Homo sapiens: one gene and its partners. The protein of the gene in region 4 purifies or fractionates together with the protein of the main gene of each other region. This does not show direct contact. Each region holds a gene or a part of one and is shown on either strand. Other genes may lie near its edges. The genes, in order: KLHL7, RNGTT, ARID2, NUP50, SMARCC2, WDHD1 and KIFC1.

Region 1 (3,500 bases), on a different chromosome or scaffold from region 4:
TCAAACATATGAATTGTTTGTTTCTGGAATTTTCCATTTAATGTTTTTGAACCACAGAAAGCAAAACCATGGATAAGGGGGACTACTCTAATTCCATTTTCCTACGCTTGTTGTGATTCAGAGGCTTTAAAGAAAGGGAAGAGCGCTGGTATAGGAGTGCTAGGAAAGCAGGGAGGAAAGAAAAGTAGAATGAAGGAAAGTATAAAGAGGGGTCAAAGAATCCAGTCAGTGCTAAGATATTTGACCCAGGAGAAAAGAAGAGGGGTGCTAAATGACAAGAACGCAAAGACTGATGCAAAGGGCTCCTGAAGATGCTTCAGAATTTTGGCAAGTCTCCTCTGTCCCTACTTTTTGTAGGCTTTCCTCCTTCCGGACACTTTAGTACTCCTTCCTGCATACCCCCTCACTGTGAGCACAGAGAGAGAGATCTTGGAAGGCAGGTGGAAAGCAGCAGAATAAATTTCAGGAGGAAGTAAAAGTCAGGTGAAGGGAATAAAAATGAGACTTAGCCTAATATCCAGAAAAGGGATTGGACTAGATGGAGCAGGAAGAGAAATAGCTATGCAGGTGAATATACTGAAGGAATTTTTAAAAGGTAGCCATGGGTCTACATATTGAAAAGATCCCTATATTAGAAAATAAAAGGCCAATCTCTAATCCTACCTGTACAGCAGAGACACTCTGGCATGAGTCCTTCCATCTCTTTGGGCCGTAATTGGGGCTTCACTCATCAATAAGATTTATATTCCTAAGACTTAAGGTTACTTCCATTATATAAATAATTATCTTCAGACAATACTATAAACGGGGAATTACCTTAATTAAGTTTTTGGAAATGATGGCTTATGTATGTTTCTATAACTCCCTAGCACTCTAAATTTCCTCCTGGGGTGATTCAACTACAAAGAAGAATGGCTGAAATATAGGTAGGTAGTAGATGTGGTGGTGCAAAGCATAGTGTGGAACCTGGAGTGAGTCTGTGCTAAGCACATCTTAGGCTTTGGGCTTCTGAGGAGACCATTTAGTAGTTTTGCCTCTGGATACCTTCTATCCTTACTGTTCACAAAGCTGGGAGGAAGGACAGCCCCGCCACCTAGAAAGTAGCCTGATTCCTGGCTAAGCTTCTGGCAAAGACAGTGGCCCAGCCAGGTGAGCCAAGTGCCATAGCCCAATAACTAGGGAAACTGCTTCTGCTTGCTTTCTGTTTAGCCTTGAGCATGGCTCTCAATGTCAGCTGATTGGATAATTCCTAGCTTAGTTTTCACCACCTGTCAATTCTCTGCTGCCCAGAAAGAGTCCATCAATCGAGCTTCCACAAATGCTAAAGGAACCGGTGGCAGCTGATGGAATCGGGCAAAGATCATGTAAAAAATTAAACCCAGTACCAGCCTGGCCAACATGGTGAAACCCCTCTCTACCAAAAAAATACAAAAATTAGCCGAGTGCAGGCGTGGTGGCACACACCTGTAGTCCCAGCTACTCCGGAGGCCGAGGCGGGAAAATCGTTTGAACCGGGAGGCGGAGGTTGCAGTGAGCCGAGATCTTGCCACTGCACTCCAGCTGCATGAGACAGTGAGACCCTGTCTTGGAAAAAACAAAAAAAAACAGTAGTTTGAGGAACAGAAAACCAAGCTAAACAGCCAAAATGAATGGCTCCTGTAAGGCAAATTTAATGTGAGAAATAGAAGGGAACAAATTAACCGGGCATGGTTGTGCGCGCCTGCAGTCCAAGCTACTCCAGAGGCTGAAGCGGGAAAATCGCTTGAACCGGGAGGCGGAGGTTGCAGTGAGTGAGCCGAGATTGCGCCACTGCACTCTAGGCTGGACTACAGAGTGAGACTCTGTCTCAAGAAAAAAAAAAAAAGCAAACTTAAAAATACGATGTGTAAAAATATGGTTTTACAGTTTTTTGACATTCAATTGAATTGAAAAATAGAATCGATACTCTTAAAACTCAAACCGAAGAAGATCAAACAGGAAGTTGCCTCATGATACGAAACAAAAATGCAAAGGAAGCCACTAGTGAGAAGATAAAAGAAAGGGAAGGAAGATACAGGAACTGCAGTGTGAGGTAGGAGTTCCAGAAGGAACAGATGGAGAAAGCAATAATCAAATAAGACTACGACTTCTTTGGGTTTAAAAAAAAAAAAAAAAAAAAAAAAAAAAAGAACTTTAACTTTCGGACTAAGTTATACTGAGTATTAAACCTGATCAATGAACTAAGATATTCCTCCCTCAGATATATTCTAGTGATATTTTTCACCTTCAAAGATCAAAAGAGAGCTTACATTTGGGGTGATAAAAATATTCTGGAACTAGATAGTGGTGACTGTGGTACAACATTGCAAATGTAGTAAATGTCACGGTAAGTTTTATGTGTATTTTACCACATTAAAAAAAAAAGTGACCCTACAGCTAGCAGGTCCCAAAAGAAACTCCCACACCCACTAGCAGTCACTCCCCATTCTTCCTCTGGCAGGCCTGGCAACCATGAATCTGCTTTCTGCCCCTATAAATTTGCCTATTCTGAGTGTTTCATATAAATTGAATCATACCAAAGGTGGCCCTTTGTGTCTGGCCTCTTTGAGCACAGTGTTTTTAGGGTTCATCCATATTGTAGCATTTATCAGTACTTCATTTCTTCTTATGGCTGAATAATATTCCATTGCATGGATATACCAAAATGTGTTTATCCATTTACTGATGGGTGAATGTTTGAATTGTTTCCAAGCCAGCACATTTTATAGAGGAAAAGGAAAGCACTGGTTAACTTGAACAAAAAAAAATAAAAGTGCTTTCTACCATCTGGGACCTTGGCTGTGGATCAGGTGAGTGCACAGGTCAGACGAAAGCCCTACAGTTGGCACAGCCTGGGCCTCTGTCCATGGTTGCAGGGGCATCTCCGCAGCTACTGCATGCAGTGATCATGGGGGCCCCAGACCTGGGCTTAGGCAAGGGCACTGTGTTGTTGTACATCACCAAACACTTCAAGCTGAGGCACCTCTCCAGCAGGGACTGCTCCAGGACAACATGCTACAGGGCACATAAATTGGTATGTTAGCCAAGGCTTTTCTTGACCAAGGGAAACTCATCCCAAATGATGTTACGACTCGGCTGGCCCTTCATGAACTGAAAAATCTCACCTAATATAGCTGGTTTTCCAAGGACACTGCCATAGGCAGAAGCCCTAGATGAGCTTATCAGATAGACACAATGATTAACTTGTATGTGCCCTTGGAGGTCATTTAAACAACACTTCACTGCTTGCTGTTCATCTAGCTAGTGGCCGAGTCGACTACATTGAATTCAACCGTCCCCAAACTGTGGGTATTGCTGATCTGACTGGGAAGCCTCTCATTCGGCCTGAGAATAATAGACCAGAGACACAGTTATCAAGAGACTGAAGACTTATGGAGCCAGTCCCAGAACTTTACCAGAAAAAAACAGGGATGTTGGAAACACTCTCCAGAGCAGAAACCAACAAGATTTAACGTCATGTT
Region 2 (3,500 bases), on a different chromosome or scaffold from region 4:
GAATACAGACTTGACGTATCTTTCCCATCAAACAAGGATGAAGTCCAAATGACTATGCCCCATTAAGCAAAACAACAAAGGCAGCACACTTTGGGTCTAACACCTTAATTTTTGTTTTAAATATAATAAGCACTGGTAAGTTGTCATACTCACCCATGGCAGTGTTGTAGGCATTAGGAAAACTTTTGTCTGTTCTCTGTCTCATGAAGACCCAGCTGTTGTTCTCAAATTTGCATTCTATAATTTTGTTGTCATACTGTTTCAGCTCTTTTGTCACCTGTTTTGAAAGAGAATTGAGGAAAATATTTAAATAACTTGAAAGGCTTTTTGCTTCTACTATGTGACAGGCACATTAGGAAATGATAAAAATACCTCAGTAACTCTTCATGCAGAGAGCTCTTTGTCATCTGAAGTATCTAATCAAGCTTAAGGTATGGTGTGCACTCCCTTGTACACATGCTCACTTATCCGACATTTTATAAATAATTGTGAAAATGGCTGTCAATATATAGCAATTAAAAGAAGCTAGGCAGAAACCAGCCATGCTGGGCCAAATGCAAATATGTTACCATGGGGACCAATACCTTCAATATTGTCTGTGTCTCTACGGCTTTCAGAAATTGAGTATACTGCCTAGGTTTCATCAACTTTCAGAAAGGTCTAACCATCTAAATTCCTATGTTAAAATCTAAGAAATGCCGTGTACTAGTTAAATGAAAAAGTTACATATCAATAGTGAATACTAGGATCAAATTCAGGCAATGTACATCCTAAATATTTTGCTTTCCAAGCAGTGACAATTAACCAACAATCTAATCTTCAGGAAACTTAGCCTTTCCATCCCCAAACTAGTACAAATTTACAGATGAAGCTATTTGTGACATTAGTTGATGGGTTTTTTGGCTTCTTCACCTCAGATGACTGAATATGGATACTCTATCAAAGCTAACAAGTATCCATGGTAACTACGAACCTTTTAAAAGATATTTCACTGGGCTGTGAGAATGGTTTTCATAAATAGGAACCTAAGCTTATCTTTGTAGTTTTCAAATCAAATGCCAGTCATGGTAATATTTTAATTCTGTCCTCATCTTTCATGGCTAACAACTTTTCCTCACAATATGGTAGACTGCAATCATTTAACTTCATTAGCATTATCTGAAACATTCTCATTTTTCTACCCACATATTCACTACCACCTAGGAATATGACGAGAAGTAAGTTTTTAAAAGATGCTTTCAATTCGCAGATTAGGCAGCACATGTCTTCATAAAAACTTTCAAACTATATTCCTTTCCCTTTACATTTGATTGTACCATCTGCATTTTCAACAAATCCAACAGGTGCAATACACTCAGTGGTTTTGGAACTAGACATGCCCAAAAAAGTGATATTCCAAGTAGCAAACTTGCCAAATTTATCCTCAAATATTCATTATTTTAGTCTCAATTCTCTTGCCTTGCTTTCTAGGGACCCATTCTTTTATTTTGGAAACACTGTGTATATGCAAGTATTGGACAACTCATTCAGTTAGGTAAACACAGTTTTGCTATACCACATGTAAGGTCTAACAGAAATAAGTTTCTAAACCTTTCAGTGTCTATTTCCTAATTTCTAAAATGGGGAACAAGTTCCTAATTTACTGGGTCACTGAAAGAATAATAATTGAAAGTGCCTGGGACATAGAACAATCAGTAAAATTGTTAACCAAATATAAAATTAGGCAATGAAACATTGCTTTTTAAAATCTGTGGTAAAAAAACATTGAATTTTCCATCTTAACCATTTTTAAGTGTACAGTTCAGCAATGCTAAGTGTATGTCTAGAACTTTTCCATCTTGCAACACTGAAATGCTATACTCCCTAAACACTAATTGCCCCCCTTCCCCTCTACCCAGACCTTGATAACTGCCTTTCTACTTTCTGTTTCTATGATTTTGACTACTTTAGATACTTCATACGAGTATTAACAGAATCACACACTATTTGTCCTTTTGTGATTGGCTTGTTTCACTTAGCATAATGTCCTTGAGGTTTATTCATGTTGTAGCATGTGACAGAAATTCTTTCTTTTTAAAGGTAGAATAATATTCCACTGTATGTATACACCACATTTTCTTTAGCCATTCATCTGTCAATGGACACGTGGGCTGCTTCTACCTCTTGGCTATTTTGGATAATGTTGCAAAGAACGTGGGTGTGAAAATATCTCTTTGAGATCCGGTTTTAAATTATTTTGGCTATACACCCAGAGGCAGTATCACTGGATCATAATTTTATTTTTAATCTTTTGAGGACCCCTTTGTTTTCCATAATGGCTGCATCAATTTACATTCTCACTAACAGTATGCAAGGGTTCCAATGTCACATCCTTAACACCTGTTAGTTTTTGTTCCTTTTTTTTTTAAAAAAAATTGACGCCCATTGTTTACTGTGCTCTAATTTAAACTTTTTGTTCTTTCATAGTGGCCATCCTGATGGTGTCAGGTGCTATCTCATTGTGGTCTTGATTTGCATTTCACTAATGACTGAGAATCTTTCCATGTGCTTATTGGCTGTATACTTTCTTCAGTATACTTTCTTCAGTATACAAGAAACTTTGTCAATTTTTTTAATTGGGTTGTTTATTGTTGTTGAGATGTAGGAGTTCCTTATATATTCTGGACATTAACTTCTTATCAGATGTACAATTTGCAATTATTTTCTCCCATTCTGTAGGCTGCCTTTTCACACTGCTGATTGATTCCTTTGATGTACATAAGTTTTTAACTTTGATGTAGTCCTCTTTGTCTATTTTTTATTTTGTTGCCTATGATTTTGGTGTTGCACACAAGAAATCATTGCCTAATCCAATGTCCTAAAGATTTGTCCTGGCCGGGCACAGTGGCTCACGCCTGTAATCCCAGCACTTTGGGAGGCCGAGGTGGGCAGATCATGAGGTCAGATCGAGACCATCCTGGCTAACACAGTGAAACCCTGTCTCTACTAAAAATACAAAAAGATTAGCCGGGCGTGGTGGCAGGTGCCTGCAGTCCCAGCTACTCGGGAGGCTGAGGCAGGATAATGGCATGAACCTGGGAGGCGGAGCTTGCAGTGAGCTGAGATCGTGCCACTGCACTCCAGCCTGGGCAAGAGAGGGAGACTCCATCTCCAAAAAAAAGATTTCTCCTATGTTATCTTTTACAAGTTTAATAGTTTAAGGTCTTATGTTTTGGTCTTTATTTTTGTGTTAATTTTTGTATATGGTGTAAGGTAGGGGTTCAACTTCATTCTTTTGCATGTGGATATTGCTTTCCCAACACTGTTAGTTGAAGATATTGATTGTCCCTTCCCATTGTGTAGTATTGGCGCCCTTGTGGCAAATCATTTGGCCATATATGCAATGATTTATTTCTGGGCTCTCTATTCTGCTCCATTGATTTGTATCTCTATCTTTATGCCAGTAATTAAGTATGCCATCTAAATTAGATGCTTTGAAGTATGTTTTGAAATCAGGAAGT
Region 3 (3,500 bases), on a different chromosome or scaffold from region 4:
CATTTAAGACCCTACATGCCTAAAAATGTCTGTAATCTACCCTTACTCTTGATAGTTGTTGGCTGTACATAACATTCTAGATTGAAAAATCATTTTTCTTTAAAAACCTGAGGGCATTGCTTTGGTGTATTCTAGCACCAGCTTTGCTGTTGAGAAGACTAGTGACATTCTGGTTCCCATTTCTTTGTATGTGATCTGTTTTCCCCCCTCTAGAAACTGTTGTGATCTCTTTATTTCTGAATATTCTGAGGTTTCTTGATGATGATGTGTCTTCGGTGGGTGTTTTGTTGTTGTTTTCATTGAAGTCATTATTTCATTTTGGTGGGTCCTTTCAATCTGGAGATTTATATCCTTCAGTAATGGGAACTTTTCTGGTATGTTTCTTTTTCTTTTCTCTTTTAGCTTTCTGTTTTCTCTCTGTTTAATCTATTTTTTGGAAATTTCCTTAATTTTTTTTTTTTTTTTTTTTTTTTTTTTTTTTTTGAGACAGAGTCTCGCTCCGTTGCCCAGGCTGGAATGCAGTGGCACGATCTTGGCTCACTGCAAGCTCCACCTCCCAGGTTCACGCCATTCTCCTGCCTCATCCTCTGGAGTAGCTGGGACTACAGGCGCCCACCACCATGCCCCGCTAATATTTTGTATATTTAGTAGAGACAGGGTTTCACCTAGTTAGCCAGGATGGTCTCGATCTCCTGACCTCGTGATCCGCCCTCCTCAGCCTCCCAAAGTGCTGGGATTACAGGCATGAGCCACCACCCCCAGCCGGAAATTTCCTTAATTTTTAAGAGCTTGTTATTGGTTGCCAGTTGTTACTATTTTATAACATCCTGTTCTTAGTGGTGTCTTCTCATCTCTCTGAGGATATTAACACCTCTACTTTTGTAGTTTTTTCCCAATCTGTGTATGGTTACTCTTTCCTTGTAATTCCTCAAATTTCTGAGGATTTGGGGGTTTGCTTATCCTCCGCCCCCCAAGACAAGAGTCTTGCTCTGTTACCCAGGCTGGAGTTCAGTGGGGCCATCATGGCTCACTGCAGCCTCCAACCTCCTGGGCTCAAGTGATCCTCCCACCTTAGCCTCCTGAGTAATTGGGACCACAAGCATATGCCACCATGCCCAACAGTTCATTTTTTAATTTTCTGTAAGGTGGGGGGTGGGGGAGGGTGTCTCACTATATTGCCCAAGCTGGTCTTGAACTCCTCAACTCAAGTGATCCACCTGCCTCGGCCTCCCAAAGTGCTGGGATTACAGGCGTGAGCCACCACGCCTAGCAAAAAATAAATTTCTTTTACCCTTCGTACTGTTTTGAGGAGGGAATGGAAAGAAACTTGTTTAAACTTGTTTTCTTAGAAGCTGATTTGTATCCTAAATGGTTTTTACTAGTGTTGCTTAGAAATTATTTTTATTATCTGTTAAGGATATTAGAGTGACCCAATATTTATTCTTTGTTAAATCATCTCAAAAAACTAACATGTGAATTTAGAAGTTGAAAGAATATCATTTTATAAAAAAACAAATTAGGCATGTTTTGTTTTATATCAAAACAAAGTGAGTGCTTAATTTTTTAAAACCTCAAAAAATTAAACATTTATATCAAAAAGGAAATTATTAGTTACTTTAAAATCATCCTAGTGATTTCAGTTTATTCTTTCTAGTTTTATCCATGCAATATTCAAATAAAAGAATACTTTTTAACATGTGACTATCACTTTGAAAAATATGATTTTGTTAACTTTTTGAAACTAAAGTCTTTTTTCTTTCTTTGTTAAAATATTCATTGATTGTGGGGAAAAACTGATTGTACTTTGTAAAGTTATTTTTATTTTGTAAATTTTTTTTTTTTTTGAGATGGAGTCTCGCTCTGTTGCCCAGGCTGGAGTGTAGTGGTGCAGTCTCGGCTCACTGCAACCTCTGCCTCCTGGGTTCAAGCGATTCTCCTGCCTCAGCCTCCTGAGTAGCTGGGATTAGTAGCCTCCCAAGTAGCTCCTGCCACCACGCCCAGCTAATTTTTTGTATTTTTAGTAGAGATGGGGTTTCACCATGTTGGCCAGGCTGGTCTCGAACTCCTGACCTCGTGATCCGCCTGCCTCAGCCTCCCAAAGCGTTTTGTAAATTTTTAAATCAATTTTTGTACAACTAATTTTTCTTTTCCAGAAAGATCTTAGAAATTTCATACTTTATTTTAAAAGTTGTTAAATAAAATTTTAAAGAAAATCATAAAGATTTTATAAAACAGAAGTGTAAAGTTCAGTGAATTATCACAAACTGAACCACTCATATAACTATCTGTCCAAGTTAAGAAATAGAGCAATATCAGTTGAAATCTTTCATGTTCTCTCCAATCTTTACTCCATCCTCCTCTCTATAAGGGACCACTATCCTGATCTGTGACACCAGAGGTTCATTTTGCCTGATTTTGAACTTTCTATATGTGAAATCATACAATATTATTTTCAGCATTATATTTTTGAGATTGATTCATGTTGTTGCATGATAGTATTTTATTCATATTATTGTATTTTTTTCTCTGCTTTTGATGGGCAAATGGGTTATTTCCAATTTGGGGCTATTAAGAGTAATGCTGCTATAAACATTCTAAACCATATTCTGTTTTTTGGCCATATACGGAACATATTTCTGTTGAGTGTTTTCAAAGGATTGGTGACTCATAAGATGTTAAAAGTTTGCTACATGATGCCAACCAATTCCAAAATGATTTTATCAATTGACACTCTATAGAAATGTATGAGAGTCTCAGCTACTCCATGTACTTGCCAACATTTGGTATTGTAATTAAAATGTTTAATTTTATCCACTCTTTTGAGTGTGTGATGGTATGTATATATGGAAACTACATAAAACTGAAATGGCCCAAAAAACATGAAAAGATGCCCAACTGTTTATTCTTCAGTCTCATTTTTTGCTCATTTCTTTTCCTTTGCTTTACTATAGTAAAAGTGACTCCAGTCCCTACATTAAATTTTGATTTTGAATTTTTGCATCTTTTCCATAAACTTCTTTTCTACAGTGTTTTTTAATTCAAAATGTACGTGTCTTCATCTTCTCTTTTTTTCTCCTGTAGTTTCTTTTATTCGGAGTTATTTTAATGAAGGCACCAAGGTTCCTGGGTAATCTCATGCTGGCTGATATTTTTTTTTAACATTTAATATAAAATTTTTCACACATAGGCAAATTTGAAATGTTTGCAATGAAATTTTTTATACCTGCCACCTAGCTATTACCATGAATATTTTAGTATACTTGCTTTATCACATATCTGTCCATTTATCCATCCCACAGTTCTGGGTGATTTTTACCATTTTTCTCAGCCCCCAGCATCCCTTTTTTTTAGCTAGATGATGCTCACTTTTATAATCTCTCATTATATAGATAGCCACATCAATATTGTGATCTTTTGGGTAGAAAATTTAAGATTGATAAGTTTTTAGAAAACAGCTTTTATGGCTAATGGGGCATTTAGGATATAGTTAAGCTAGATGT
Region 4 (3,500 bases):
CAAATCGCTTGAGCTCAGGAGTTTGAGACCAGCCTGGGCAACATGGCAAAACCCCATCTCTACAAAAAATGTAAAAATTAGCTGAGTGTGGTGGTGTGTACCTATAATCCCAGCTACTGGGGAGGCTGATGGGGGAGGATCACTTGAGCTCGGGAGGTTGTGGCTGCAGTGAGCCAAGACCACACCAATACACTCCAGCCTAGGTGACAGAGCGAGACCCTGTCTCAATGCAGTACTCTGGGGATGAGAAACCAGTGGATACGAACACTCACTTTTCCTATCTAAGAGTTATGCTGGTCTGACTATGGGACTTGAACATCCAAGGGGGTGCTGAAACCAATCCCCAGGATACTAGGGGATGGCTGTAGTTAAAAATCTTAACAGAGGCCGGGCACAGTGGCTCGCGGATGTAATCCCAGCACTTTGGGAGGCCAAGGCAGGTGGATCACAAGGTCAAGAGATCAAGACCATCCTGGCCAACATGGTGAAACCCCGTCTCTACTAAAATTACAAAAATTAGCTGGGCATGGTGGTGCATGCCTGTAGTCCCAGCTACTCGGGAGGCTGAGGCAGGAGAATCGCTTAAACCCAGAGGCGGAGGCTGCAGTGAGCAGAGGTCGCGCCACTGCATTCCATCCTGGTGACAGAGCAAGACTCCAACTTAGAAAAAACAACAACAACAACAAAACTTAACAGAGAACACTTATTTTACATCACACTAAACATTCTGCCAAATTAAAATCAAACAGTATATACTCTCAGAATAATCAGCTAAATACAACCCAACCAGTCAGGATCATTTCCAAGCTTTTAACCCGTGATCCTATTCTCTGTTGCTAATTCCAAGAGTTTTTGACTGACTCCCTCAAAACAGGATCAGGCAATCAACACATCCCATACCCAAACAAACCTAGCGTGGGAGGCACCCTGGCCACGGAGAACCGCATCTGAGTTCCCAGTAGCCAGTTTGGTGCGAGGCACACAGAAAGCCCTTGGCACACAAAGGGTCTACATAGCATTTTCTTTTCTCTCTCGACTCTAGGTCAATTCTGAGGGCCACTCTCCTTTCAAAATTGAACATTCTGAGGCCTAGAGGCCAGGGTCACACAACTGGTAGCCAGCAGAGCTGAGAACAAAGCTGAGATGTTTTGGATCAAAAGCCTGTGCTCTACCCACTTACTCTGTAAGTAACCGACACCTCCCTAAGTTCCATCTCTTTCATTATCACCCTGGTTTTGCTCACACAGTTCCAAGACACAGGGTAGCTATAAGAAAAACATCTTTGTAAAGCTATTTTCCATAGATGATACTTACACAGGCGGCTGGGGGATGGGAGCTACTTACCAAAGGCTACCTTGGGATCTGCCGCTGCCTTTGCACTGGCGAAGGGAGGGGCACTGGTTATGTTGTTTCCATTCGACAGTCCTTCCAAAGGCTTCCCTCCAGCGCCACTACCAAATCCAGAAAAGCGTCCTCCTCCAGAAGGTACCACCAAACCTTTAAAACCTTTAAAGGCTCCTCCAGTGTCAGACTGAAGTATGAAGGAGGAGCACACATTAGGTAAGTGTACTTTCTATTACCAAAAAGCAAGTGAGTGACAACAGCATCTTGGCTAAACAGCACCTAGACTCCACATGCAGTCAGCGTTATAAGGCAAACTGCTGGCACAAGCAGAAATAAGAAATGAGATGGGAAGATTGTATTCATAAGAACAGCTTTGCAACCCAAAGCTGCTTTCCTGAAACAGGCAGGAAGGACATTTAAAAAATATATTATGTGTATTTTTAGGACATAAAAGGTAAGAAAGACTAATGCAATAAACCTATGTACCCACCACCCAGCCTCAGAATTACTGAAGCGGCTCAATAAAACTAAATCCCAAATGAAAGATACTTCATGTACTACTCAGTCAAAGACCATTTACTGCCTAAAGAAATGATAAAAACATCAAGGTAGGTTAACTAAAAATATCCATTTGCCTAATTTCTTAACATCTGTGGCTTGCAACTGCTTTCAGCCTACAAAAACTTAGATGATCGAGTCTCAAATCTACATGTTCCTGTTAGCTGAACAACCCGGGACAACTTCTTACTCTCCTTTTCCTCACTGCTTCCTTAAACTCGATTGTTTTAACAAGGTTTTTCTAGTAGGCCTTTTCCCTTTGTGCTAGCCTGCTCACATCTCTAACCTAAGATGCTCTGGAAATGTGTGGCATTCCGTATGAATTCTAAAGCTCCTCTCTGCCCCTGGAACTTTTGGAGAAAGGTTCCTCGGTTTATAGTGCTTTGCTAAATAAACTCACCACAATTTTTAGAAGCCCTTTTTTGTTGTTGTTCGAAGAAGTGATTACATTATAGGAAGTGATCTGCTTCTTAGACCGAACATCTAAGAGACAGTTCACAAATCTTAAGTTTCCACATGAGTGAATTATAACCATGATTTCACCAGAAAAAAAAAAAAATTAAACTGGAACCCCTTCATTTACTAAATGGGCCAGTCAGCCTAAATATTACTGCATGTTTTTCCAAAACCAAAGTTTCAATCTCATCTACAGAATTTCAGATGTTTACTGACCACTGATATATTTAAGGCAATAAAATGAGGCAAAGAATGGAAAATTGTAACTTGTATGAGTTTTAATGCACATAATAAACAGAGCTTAGATTCTGTTGCTCTACATTTGATTTTTCATCATTTAAAATTCCAAACCCGCCACACTGATAGCTGTCATTTTAAAACAATGATTCATGGACAAACTATAAAGCCATTAAGTGGCTTTTCAGAGCCTCCGATTTTGCACAAAGTTAAAAGTCACTTGTAGGGATTTTAGAAATTGCTGATAGTAAATTGGCTCTAGAATCACAACAAAAATTCAAGAACCACAAGTTAAACAAAAAAAAGATATTCAGAAAAATGAGAGTAAAAGTTGATTAAGATATTCATCAAGGGGCCAGGTGTGGTGGCTCATGCCTATAATACCAGTACTTTGGGAGGCCGAGACATTCAGGTCACTTGAGCCCAGGAGTTTGAAACCACCCTGGGCAACAGAGTGAGACCCCCTGTCTACAAAAATGCAAAAATTAGCTGGGTGTGGTGGCGCATGCCTGTAGTCCCAGCTACTCAGGAGGCTGAGGCAGGAGGATTGCTTCAGCTCAGGAGGCGGCGGTTGCAGAGAGTCAAGATTGTGCCACCGCACTCCACCCTGGGCGACAAAGACCCTGTCTCAAAAAAAAAAAAAAAAGGGAAAATACCCATGTGGGCTCCTCCATGGGCACTGACACAGCCCCACATCCCTCAATTTCCCTCATTGGTTTTACTGTTCCCCATGGCACTTACAGAGGAAAAATTAATACTATGTATTTGTTCTCTTCCATAGGGCAAGATGATTTTGGTCTTTTTTACTCACCAATACATCTCCAGTGCTTAGCAGATCTACTGAATCCACTATTTAGGAAAAGCCGCATTTCAGCATTCTGGTGGGTGACATGACATTTAATTGT
Region 5 (3,500 bases), on a different chromosome or scaffold from region 4:
GGCTGGAGCCACAGCCAAGCCATGGACTGCGGGTGGCCCAGCAGCCCCTGTTGGGGGGATAGGCTGGGAGCCTGGGGGCAGGGCTGGTGGTGGCTGCTGCTGCTGTTGGTGCATCTGTTGGAAGTGCTGCTGCCGAGCCCTCATCTCCGCATACTTCAGCTGCTCCATGTGGAAGGCTTGTCTGTCGGCCAGGAGCTGCTGCCTCTGATACTCCAGCTGCCAGTGCCAATTGAGTATTGTTATCCAATTTTCAGCAGATCCCAAAGGCAAATGCCTCAACCCCTGCTTTGTCTTCTTCTGAAAGAGCCTGCCTCTCAATCAGAAGGTTCCCAAAATCTACATCTTGTGCTTGTGCTCCCTCTGTCCTCCCCACCCGACTTCGTGCAAATTCCCATGACCTTTATGTCTCCTGAGTGCCCACATGGTTTCTTATTGCAATGACTTTAACCTGGCCCAAGCTCACTTCAGCTACAAAGCTTTGAACTTGCCATTACCTTGATTTGGAAAATGCTTCCAGTTCCTTTTGTCAATTCAAGTTCTTTTCTTACTTCAAAATTCACTAAAAAGTCACTGTTCTTAGGAAGCTATCCCAGATCAATTCATTTGCCTCTGAGCTTTAGCTTTATTCTATGATCTCAGGACTTAGAAACTTGATGTGCAATCTCTTTATTTTTTTGAGACTGAGTCTCACTCTGTCACCCAGGCTGGAGTACAGTAGCGTGATCTCAGCTCACTGCAACCTCCGCCTCCCCGGTTCAAGCAATTCTCCTGCCTCAGCCTCCCGAGTAGCTGGGATTACAGGTGTGTGCCAGCATGCCGGGCTAATTTTTTGTATTTTTTTATTCTTTAGTAGAGACGGGGTTTCACCATGTTAGCCAGGATGGTCTCGATCTCCTTGATCTCGTGATCCACCTGCCTCAGCCTCCCAAAGTGCTGGAATTACAGGTGTGAGCCACCGCGCCCGGCTGATGTGCAATCTCTTAATGTGAATTTGTCAGATACTTTAAACCTTCTTAACTGTTTCTGATGTCTCCATATTGTATATTCATTTGATGTCTCCCATTAAACCTTAAGTTCTCTGAGGTCCCTATCTTCTATTTCTTTTTCTTCTTTTTTTTTTTTTTGAGATAGGGTCTCACTCTGTCACCCAGGCTGGAATGCAATGGGGCAAACATGGCTCAGTGCAGCCTTGACCTCCTGGGCTCAAACGATCCTCCCACCTCAGCTTCCTGAGTAGCTGGGACCACAGGCTCGCACCACCACGCCCGGCTAATTTGTTTATTTTTAAAAAATGTTTGGGCTGGGCACGGTGGCTCATGCCTGAAATCCCAGCGCTTTGGGAGGCTGAGGTGGGCGGATCACCTGAGGTCAGGAGTTTGAGACCAGCCTGGCCAACATGGTGAAACCCTGTCTCTACTAAAAATACAAAAATTAGCTGGTCATGGTGGCATGTGCCTGTAATCCCAGCTACTCGGGAGGTGAGGCAGGAGAATCGCTTGAACCCAGGAGGCGGAGGTTGCAGTGAGCCGTGATTGCACCACTGCACTCCAGCCTGGGCGAAAGAGTAAGACTCCATCTCAAAAAAAAAAAAAAAAGCGTGATGACTCACCTGTAATCCGGCACTTTGGGAAGCAGAGATGGGCTGATCACCTGAGATCGGGAGTTCGAGACCAGCCTGACCAACATAGAGAAACCCCATCTCTACTAAAAATACAAAATTAGCTGGGCATGGTGGCACATGCCTGTAATCCCAGCTACTGGGGAGGCTGAGGCAGGAGAATCGCTTCCCAGGAGGCGGACGTTGTGGTGAGCGAAGATCACACCATTGCACTCCAGCCTGGGCAACAAGAGCGAAACTCTGTCTCAAATAAATAAATAAATAAATAAATAAAATAAATTGTTGAGACAGAGATCTCACTATGTTACCCAGGCTGGTCTTGAACTCCTGGGCTCAAGTGATCCATCTGCCTCAGTGTACCAAAGTACTAGGATTACAAATGTGGGCCACTGTGCCCAGTCCCTATTGTCTATTTCTTTTTATGTCCTCCAAAGACAAAATGGTTCAACACTGTGTCGGTCCCATTCCCTTTCCAAGTTCACCTCCTGGATCTGAGGCTCTTACCCTCTCTCTCATCATCCGTTACGCCCATTCACTCAATCACTATTTGAGTCTACTATGGGCCAAGCACTGTTCAAGGACCTGGAGATGCAGCAATCAAAACAACCAACTAGAGTCCCTGCCTCATGGAGCTGACCTTCTGTGGGACTTCAGTCCCCAGACTTCACTTGTGAGACCACTTAACTGTCTCTAACTGGCTGCCCTACTCCTGCCCTGTTCCTGCCCTGCTCTGCTTTGAAGCCCTGTCTGTCTCAGGCTTTCCCCACTGTTGCTTATCTTTCACTGAAACACACACACACACACACACACTCAGGCTTTCCCCACTGTTGCTTATCTCTCTTTCACTGAAACACACACACACACACACACACACACACACACACACACACACACACACGCCCCTCCGATTTTAAACTGAGGCACAGCGCAGCAGGGTTCCAGGGCTCCTGCTACTCACTGCTTCTCGCTCCCGGTCCATGATAGTCTCCAGCTCCTCAAAGTGCCGAAGTTTGATCTCCAACTTTTTCATCTGGGTCTCCACCAGCAGGGCCACCAAAGATTTGATCTTCCTTTCCTCAACAGCAGCCAAGTGCTAGGGAAGGAGGGGCGAGACAGCACATCAGTGGGAGGACCCAACTGAAGACAATACAGAAGAAAGGTAGGGTGGATGCTGGCAGGTATAAGAACAAATTTGCTGTGGTCACAACCCATGGTGAAAGGGCTTGACTTTTTTGTGCTGGGATTATAGGCGTGAGCCACCGTGTCTTTTTTCTTTTTTCTTTTTTTTTTTTTGGGACAGTCTCACTCTGTTGCCCAGGCTGGAGTACAGTGGCATGATCTCAGCTCACTGTAACCTCTACCTCCTGGGTTCAAGCAATTCTCGTGCCTTTGCCTCCCCAGTACCTGGGATTACAGACATGCGCCACCACGCCGGCTAATTTCTGTGTTTTTAGTAGAGATGGGGTTTCACCATGTTGGCCAGGCTGGTCTCAAACTTACAACCTCAGGTGATCCACCTGCCTCAGCCTCCCAAAGTCCTGGGATTACACGCGTGAGCCACTGCGCCCAGCCTTTTTAAAAAATTAAATTATTTTGGCCAGGTGTGATGGCTCATGCCTGTAATCCCAGCGCTTTGGGAGGCTAAGGCGAGCAGATCACTTGAGTCCAGGAGTTTGAGACCAGCCTGGGGCAACAGGGTGAAACCCCATCTCTGCTAAAAATACAAAAATTAACCGGGCATGCTGGCACGTGCCTGTAATCCTAGCTACTTGGGAGGCTGAGGTGGGAGAATCGCTTGAACCTGGGAGGTGGAGGTTGCAGTGAGCCGAGATTGTGCCACTGCACTCCAGCCTGGGCAACAGAGTGAGACTCCATCTCAAAA
Region 6 (3,500 bases), on a different chromosome or scaffold from region 4:
ATATCTGACATCAGTGGGGATTCTATCTAAATTTATTTGAAAAGTTTAACACTAATGATAAAATTCTTAATTTTTACAGTAATACAAATACAAACTTTGGCAGGAAATAGCGTTCAGCAGTCCTGCGAAAGAAGTGCTTTTAGAGTAGTCTAAACATTCTTCTAAATGGTTTTATCCTTTATTGTATCAAATAACTACATATTAATTTTATTGTTTTCTACAGTGCTGTAGGAAAAATCAATATTCTTTTTTTTTCTTTTTGAAACAGGGCCTTGCTCTGTTGCTCAGGCTGGAGTGCAGTGGCACCATCTCGGGTCACTGCAACCTCCACTTCCCAGGTTCAAGTGATTCTCCTGCCTCAGCCTCCCAAGTAGCTAGTATTACAGGCACGCACCACCCACACCTGGCTAAATTTCGTATTTTCATAGAGATGGGGTTTCACCATGTTGGCCAGCCTGGTCTCGAACTCTTGACCTCAAGTGATACACCTACCTCAGCTTTCCAAAGTGCTGGAATTACAGACGTAAGCCACTGCACCCAGCCAGAAAAATCAATGTTCTTACTATATTAGGAAATCTGTGAAACACAAAAGTACTTGAATTTGGAATTACAATTCATGATTCTATCCAAATGAGCTGCAAGATAACACACCAACAAAAAAGAAGCCATACTTGTCAAATTTTCAGATTTTATTTATATCTAGAATTGCTGAACAACAGAATTTTTGAAAAAAACATGTTTTGTTTCTGTTTTTGTTGCCCAGGCTGGAGTGCAGTGGCCCTACCACGGCTCACTGCAGGCTTGACCTGGGCTCAAGCAATCCTCCCACCTCAGCTGCACACAAATCAATGTGATATACAGAAAAACTACTAGACCTCCTGGCCTCAAGCAATCCTCCCACCTCAGCAGCGCACAAACCGATGTTAATTAAATACACAAAAAATACTAGCATTGCAGGACATACTTTCTCCCTCTGCTTGGAGTGATTGGGTTTTTAAAATCTTTAAGCCTTTGAAGAGCGAGCGACTCTGTAAAACAACCTAAGTGTCCTACTGTAATAATGGTATTATTATTATTAGAAACAAGTCCTCTAAATCTTAGTTGCATTTAGTTGAAAACAGACATCTTTAATCAAAGCATTAAACTTAAGCTTTTGAAGCTTTTAGTGAAATGCAATTCATGAAAACAAAACTTATGCACAGGAAGACACTGAAATTTATCCCTACAAAAGCAAATAAGAATTGAACAAATTGTACATGAAAAGCTGAAATGGTGAATGATTTCATTTTAAAATTCTGTAACTGTACTTTGGAATATCTTGACTTGTGGGAAGAATATTTTGATAGAACTCCTATTTTTAATTGTATTAATTTATGTTCTGTGCCAGAATGAAATAAAAGAGTAGGCTTAAAATCTGTGAAACATCCAAAAGAATCATAGACAACTTGATGAATTTTGTCCTTAAAAACAGTGAAGACCCTATTATTGAAGAAGTGTACCCTGAATGGAGATAAAAAGACAGAACCTATAAAAATACTGAGGCTGAAGTATTTACCCATTTCAATTAAAACAAATTCTTAAAAATTATGACTCTCCCAGCTAGTAGAATTTGCTCTGAGCCTGCCAAGTACCTTAGAACCTAACATTTTTCTCATTAAAAAATATTATAGTCTAGGCCAGGCATGGTGGCTCACGCCTGTAATCCCAGCACTTTGGGAGGCGAGACCAGCCTGACCAACAATGGAGAAACCCCATCTCTACTAAAAATACTAAATTATCCAGGCATGGTGGCGCATGCCTGTAATCCCAGCTACTTGGGAGGCTGAGGCAGGAGAATTGCTTGAACCTGGGAGGCAGAGGTTACAGTGGGCCGAGATGGTGCCATTGCACTCCAGCCTGGGCAACAAGAGTGAAACTCTGACTCAAACAAATAAAAAAAAGAAAAGAATTGAAGATTTAACTTCAAATTTATTCAGCATAAAATGCAACTCTAAACAAGGCTACAGCTAATTTTTTATGAGAAAAATTAAAATAACACTGTATTAAAAATATATTTTTCAGAAAAATATCAGCAATACCATGGGACAGACAGGCTAAGAAACTGATTAAAGCACATAAATATGTACCAGAAATGATTATCTTACATATGTTAACATTTAGATCATATGTTTAATGTTTGGATAATCAATGTAAATAAATATTTTTATTTTTTTCTTAGGTAAACTGGGTAAGTTGTTAATTTACATATTCCTAGAAAATTATACCTTTGTTTCAAATTTTCAAAACTATTGGCATAAGGGTGTCAATGTATTCACGTATTTTGAAGCCTATATTGTACCTTTTTTATCTCTAATATTATTTTATTTGTGCCTTCTCTTTTTTGATTCATGACTCTTGCTAAAGCATTGTTCTACTAGGTTCTACCCCCAATAAACCAGATTTTAGTTATAAGATGTATGGGATTTACTTTAAAATAATAAAGAGTAAGGCGGGGTGTGGTGGCTCATGCCTGTAACCCCAGCACTTTGGGAGGCCAAGGCTGGTGGATCAATTGAGGTCAGGAGTTCAAGACTAGCCTGGCCAACATGACGAAACCTTGTCTCTACTAAAAATACAAAAATTAGCCAGCTGTTGCGGAGGGCATCTGTGATCCCAGCTACTTGGGAGGCTGAGGAGAGAGAATCACTTGAACCCAGGAGGCAGAGGTTACAGTGAGCCGAGATCGTGCCACTGCACTCCAGCCTGGGCGACAGAGCTAGACTCCATCTCAACAAAAAAGAAATCCGCTATCAGTGTCTGGGCATGAAGATTAATTATATCAAGACTTCATCAGCTTTATGACATAACCTCAAGGAGTCAATGATTACCAACGCATTTCTTACTACCTCAACTCTATCCTCAGAGAGCAACATTCCTTCCCTAATCTGACCACCTCTTCTTGACTCTTAATCATTGAGTCTCATGAGGTTCATGGTGAGGCACAAGCAAAATCTCTATATACTCAGCTTTCTTTCTGGTCATTCTTCTGGGGTCACTGCTTCCTCTTCAGCCCTCTTAAGTAGTGACTGATTACTTTCTATACCCCACTGGTACTAGAGACAAAATCAAAACCACGTAGTGTCAACCTCACTAATTCAAATTCCTCCCCTTCCATTATCTTGAATCCACTTCAAGGTTTTCATTCTTACCATTCCATAAAACTTGCCAATGGCCTCCACATTGCTAAATCTAATGGTGAATTCTCAGTCTTCAACCTGACTCACCAGGAGCATTTGACAGAGTCTATTATTTCCTGTTCCTCAAACACTTCATTTGGCTTCTAAACATCCTTCTTGTCTTTCAGTTCTCTACTTTTCTAGCTACTCTTTCTTAGTCTCCTTAGCTGGATCCTCTTTAACTTGATCTCTAAATATTTTGGAGTATCCTTGAACCTCTTTTCTTACCTATATTTACTCCTTCCCTAGGTGACTTCATCCAAGTTCACAGTAATAAATATTATG
Region 7 (3,500 bases), on a different chromosome or scaffold from region 4:
GGCCAGACAGGCAGTGGCAAGACCTTCACAATGGAGGGTGGGCCTGGGGGAGACCCCCAGTTGGAGGGGCTGATCCCTCGGGCCCTGCGGCACCTCTTCTCTGTGGCTCAGGAGCTGAGTGGTCAGGGCTGGACCTACAGCTTTGTAGCAAGCTACGTAGAGATCTACAATGAGACTGTCCGGGACCTGCTGGCCACTGGAACCCGGAAGGGTCAAGGGGGCGAGTGTGAGATTCGCCGTGCAGGGCCAGGGAGTGAGGAGCTCACTGTCACCAATGCTCGATATGTCCCTGTCTCCTGTGAGAAAGAAGTGAGGACCCATGGGCACTGGAACTGGGAAATGGGGAGGAGTGGGCAGGGTGCCACGAGATGGAGGTAGAGGGAGAAAGGAGCAAGAGAGAATTGAAGGATGAAGTGCAAGTTATCAGGCTGGGTTACCACATCCGGTTTTGGCCTGTGGGCTGTCGGTAGATCTGCCTTAACCTGGGAGTGGCGAGGGAGTGATGCATCTGCCAAAACGAGGAGGGTCACTACATCTCATGTCTCATCTTCTTGCTCAGCTCATCCTAGCCATGCTGGCCTCCTGGCTGTTCCTCAACCAGCTAGTCGTGCTCCCCATCTCAGGGCCTTTGCCTGGATGCTCTTTCCTGGAGATCTTGGCTATCCTGTCAAAACTTGTGTTCCCCACCCCGCCTTTATACACTCCCTATTCTATGTATTCCTTACCATTTTCAGACATACTGTGCATCTTATTTTGTTTCTTGACAGGCTAGAAAGCTTCAAGAGGGTGGGGGTGGGCTCTTATTCATTTCCATACATATTACTATGTACTGACTTCTGCCTGCCTTTTTGCCCCTTCTGCTCCCATCCCCAGGTGGACGCCCTGCTTCATCTGGCCCGCCAGAATCGGGCTGTGGCCCGCACAGCCCAGAATGAACGGTCATCACGCAGCCACAGTGTATTCCAGCTACAGATTTCTGGGGAGCACTCCAGCCGAGGCCTGCAGTGTGGGGCCCCCCTCAGTCTTGTGGACCTGGCCGGGAGTGAGCGACTTGACCCCGGCTTAGCCCTCGGCCCCGGGGAGCGGGAACGCCTTCGGGAAACACAGGCCATTAACAGCAGCCTGTCCACGCTGGGGCTGGTTATCATGGCCCTGAGCAACAAGGTGGGAATGGGAGTGGGGTGAGATACGGGACCTGGGGGACAGTTGGGGTTGGCTGTGCAGAACCCTGCCTATTCCTAAACATCTGTCCCCACCTCAATCATCTAGGAGTCCCACGTGCCTTACCGGAACAGCAAACTGACCTACCTGCTGCAGAACTCTCTGGGTGGTAGTGCTAAGATGTGAGTGAAAGGGACAGATGGAAGGGGTCAGGTAGGAACTGTGTTGGGGTGAGGGGTAGAAAGGGGAACAGTGGAGACCTGTCCAGGCTCTGCTGGCCCCTAATGCTGGGGTTGGGCACATTGTCTTTTCATAGGCTCATGTTTGTGAACATTTCTCCACTGGAAGAGAACGTCTCCGAGTCCCTCAACTCTCTACGCTTTGCCTCCAAGGTGCGATTACCACCCGTCAGCCTTGTCAGGACCCGTGGGTGGTTGTAGGCTTCTCCATTCCAATCCCTTTTGTCTTCTAGGGCAGGGAGCACATTTGTGCAGAAAGGTTTTGCAGGTATCTGAGGCACTGCTCACCTGGTTCCATTTTTAATTATTAGCTTTTGAGTTAAGTTTTTTAAAAAACGGGTGATTAATTTAACCTGAGAAAGCTGATTAAAAAAAAAAGAAAAGGTGACTAAAAGGTCTAAACTGGTTGGGCGTAGTAGCTCATGCCTATAATCCGAACACTTCGGGAGGCCAAGGCAGGAGGATTGCTTGAGCCCAGGAGTTTAAAATCAGTCTGGGCAACATAGTGAGACCCTGTCTCTACAAAAAATAGGAAAATTAGCTGGGTGTAATGGCTCACACCTGTAGTTCCAGCTACTCAGGAGGCTGAGGTGGGAGGATCACCTGAACCTGGGAGGTGGAGGCTGCAGTGAGCCGTGATCCTACCACTGCACTTCAGCCTGGGTGACAGAGTAAGACCTTGTCTCAAAAAACCAACACACAAAAAATCCCTAAGATTCCTCCCTATCAGCATACAGAGATCATTATTTTTAGGTCTGCCTAGACTCCACTATGTAGCTGCACCAAAATTTATCCACCAGTTCCCTCTACTGGACACTTGGATTGTTTCCACACTTTTTTAGTCACAAACAAGGCCACGTTGACTAACTTTGTACATACATCATTTTGTATTTTTCAGTTACATCTAACTAGGGAAATAGTCCTTGAAATGGGATTACTGGATCAAAGACTTAGAGGTTTTTCAGACTATTCCAAATAGTGTGAATTCAGACTCCAAACCTCATGAGGGTCAGCCAGTGGCTATATGAATTCTCACTAATGAGAATTCCTTCCACTAGAATCTCCTTCCACTAGTGTTAAGCAAGTCAGAAAGTTTCCTTACTGTCTGCCTCCACAGTAATTTTTTTCTCTGGTACACCCTCCTCCTGCGCGTATAGCCCTTTGATGGGCTCTGGCTTTATTTGAGGTCTGATCAGGTCTGTCCTGCTGTGCGCTTGGGCCTCCTCCCAGTCAGCACTGATTGTTGCTGTGGAGTAGCCAGCACCTGCACCCTGATCTGGTATTCTACTTTGATGAGGGTTTCCCTCACTATCTTGCAAGTTCAATTTTAGAGGGTGGTGATGTTTTTTCTAACTTTTTATTAATGTTATACCAATGTAACATCCAACAACATGAACTTTAATATCCTCTAATACCCAGTTTATGTTAAATTTCACCCAACTGTCTCAGAAGTGTCTTTTATACATAATAGGTTTGTTCAAATCAGGATCCAGGCAAGGGCCACCCACTTGGTTGAAATGTCTCAAGTTCCACAACCCTATCCCACACTGCCACTATTATGTCGTTTGTTGAAGGTCATTTGTCCTATAGAATATACTATTCTGGATTTTGGCTGGTTGCTTCCTCTTTCCCCCATACTTTCACTTATTTATCATATTTGGGTGTTGTCAACCTGACCCATCCATTTACAAGCTCCTTATTGACTTTTTCACCTAGTGATTTTATCCAGCAGTGACCATACCTGGATCTTTATTTCATTAAGGGGTTTCTAAATGGGGATTTTTCTAATCTTAGTTGTTCTGCATTGGTTAGTCACGATTCTTTTATGAAGACATTTGCCTTGCCATCTACTTGGTTTCTCTGAAATTCAATTCATACAGGAAAAACAAGATAAATGCTGAATTATTTATTGATTTTCAGTATTGAGTTGATATCCTAGCAGCTTCCAAAGGTGACCAATGAATGTTTATCTGAGGGTTATTTTTATTTTTATTTTTTTTGAGACAGGGACTTGCTCTGTTGCCCAGACTGGAATTCAGTGGCTCAATCATAGCTCATTGTAGCCACCAAAAGTGTTGGGATTATAGGCGTGAGCCACCC

Evidence for each region.
Region 1: the proteins of NUP50 (region 4) and KLHL7 purify together in Homo sapiens (affinity purification with mass spectrometry; 4 studies listed by BioGRID and IntAct, with this or other methods). This does not show direct contact.
Region 2: the proteins of NUP50 (region 4) and RNGTT purify together in Homo sapiens (affinity purification with mass spectrometry; 3 studies listed by BioGRID and IntAct, with this or other methods). This does not show direct contact.
Region 3: the proteins of NUP50 (region 4) and ARID2 purify together in Homo sapiens (affinity purification with mass spectrometry; 4 studies listed by BioGRID and IntAct, with this or other methods). This does not show direct contact.
Region 5: the proteins of NUP50 (region 4) and SMARCC2 purify together in Homo sapiens (affinity purification with mass spectrometry; 3 studies listed by BioGRID and IntAct, with this or other methods). This does not show direct contact.
Region 6: the proteins of NUP50 (region 4) and WDHD1 purify together in Homo sapiens (affinity purification with mass spectrometry; 3 studies listed by BioGRID and IntAct, with this or other methods). This does not show direct contact.
Region 7: the proteins of NUP50 (region 4) and KIFC1 purify together in Homo sapiens (affinity purification with mass spectrometry; 4 studies listed by BioGRID and IntAct, with this or other methods). This does not show direct contact.

What each region holds. Positions count from the first base shown.
Region 1 is NC_000007.14:23,126,285-23,129,784, forward strand, and holds part of KLHL7 (kelch-like protein 7), read left to right. Parts: intron 1-3,500. UniProt on the Homo sapiens protein: Substrate-specific adapter of a BCR (BTB-CUL3-RBX1) E3 ubiquitin ligase complex. The BCR(KLHL7) complex acts by mediating ubiquitination and subsequent degradation of substrate proteins. Probably mediates 'Lys-48'-linked ubiquitination.
Region 2 is NC_000006.12:88,614,119-88,617,618, forward strand, and holds part of RNGTT (mRNA-capping enzyme), read right to left. Parts: intron 278-3,500; coding exon 154-277; intron 1-153.
Region 3 is NC_000012.12:45,900,706-45,904,205, forward strand, and holds part of ARID2 (AT-rich interactive domain-containing protein 2), read left to right. Parts: intron 1-3,500. UniProt on the Homo sapiens protein: Involved in transcriptional activation and repression of select genes by chromatin remodeling (alteration of DNA-nucleosome topology). Required for the stability of the SWI/SNF chromatin remodeling complex SWI/SNF-B (PBAF).
Region 4 is NC_000022.11:45,173,925-45,177,424, reverse strand, and holds part of NUP50 (nuclear pore complex protein Nup50), read right to left. Parts: intron 1,532-3,500; coding exon 1,345-1,531; intron 1,184-1,344; exon of another isoform or gene 1,043-1,183; intron 1-1,042. UniProt on the Homo sapiens protein: Component of the nuclear pore complex that has a direct role in nuclear protein import. Actively displaces NLSs from importin-alpha, and facilitates disassembly of the importin-alpha:beta-cargo complex and importin recycling.
Region 5 is NC_000012.12:56,165,484-56,168,983, forward strand, and holds part of SMARCC2 (SWI/SNF complex subunit SMARCC2), read right to left. Parts: intron 2,712-3,500; coding exon 2,577-2,711; intron 217-2,576; coding exon 1-216. UniProt on the Homo sapiens protein: Involved in transcriptional activation and repression of select genes by chromatin remodeling (alteration of DNA-nucleosome topology).
Region 6 is NC_000014.9:55,017,100-55,020,599, forward strand, and holds part of WDHD1 (WD repeat and HMG-box DNA-binding protein 1), read right to left. Parts: intron 1-3,500. UniProt on the Homo sapiens protein: Core replisome component that acts as a replication initiation factor. Binds directly to the CMG complex and functions as a hub to recruit additional proteins to the replication fork.
Region 7 is NC_000006.12:33,405,323-33,408,822, forward strand, and holds part of KIFC1 (kinesin-like protein KIFC1), read left to right. Parts: coding exon 1-309; intron 310-873; coding exon 874-1,164; intron 1,165-1,269; coding exon 1,270-1,343; intron 1,344-1,477; coding exon 1,478-1,553; intron 1,554-3,500. UniProt on the Homo sapiens protein: Minus end-directed microtubule-dependent motor required for bipolar spindle formation. May contribute to movement of early endocytic vesicles. Regulates cilium formation and structure.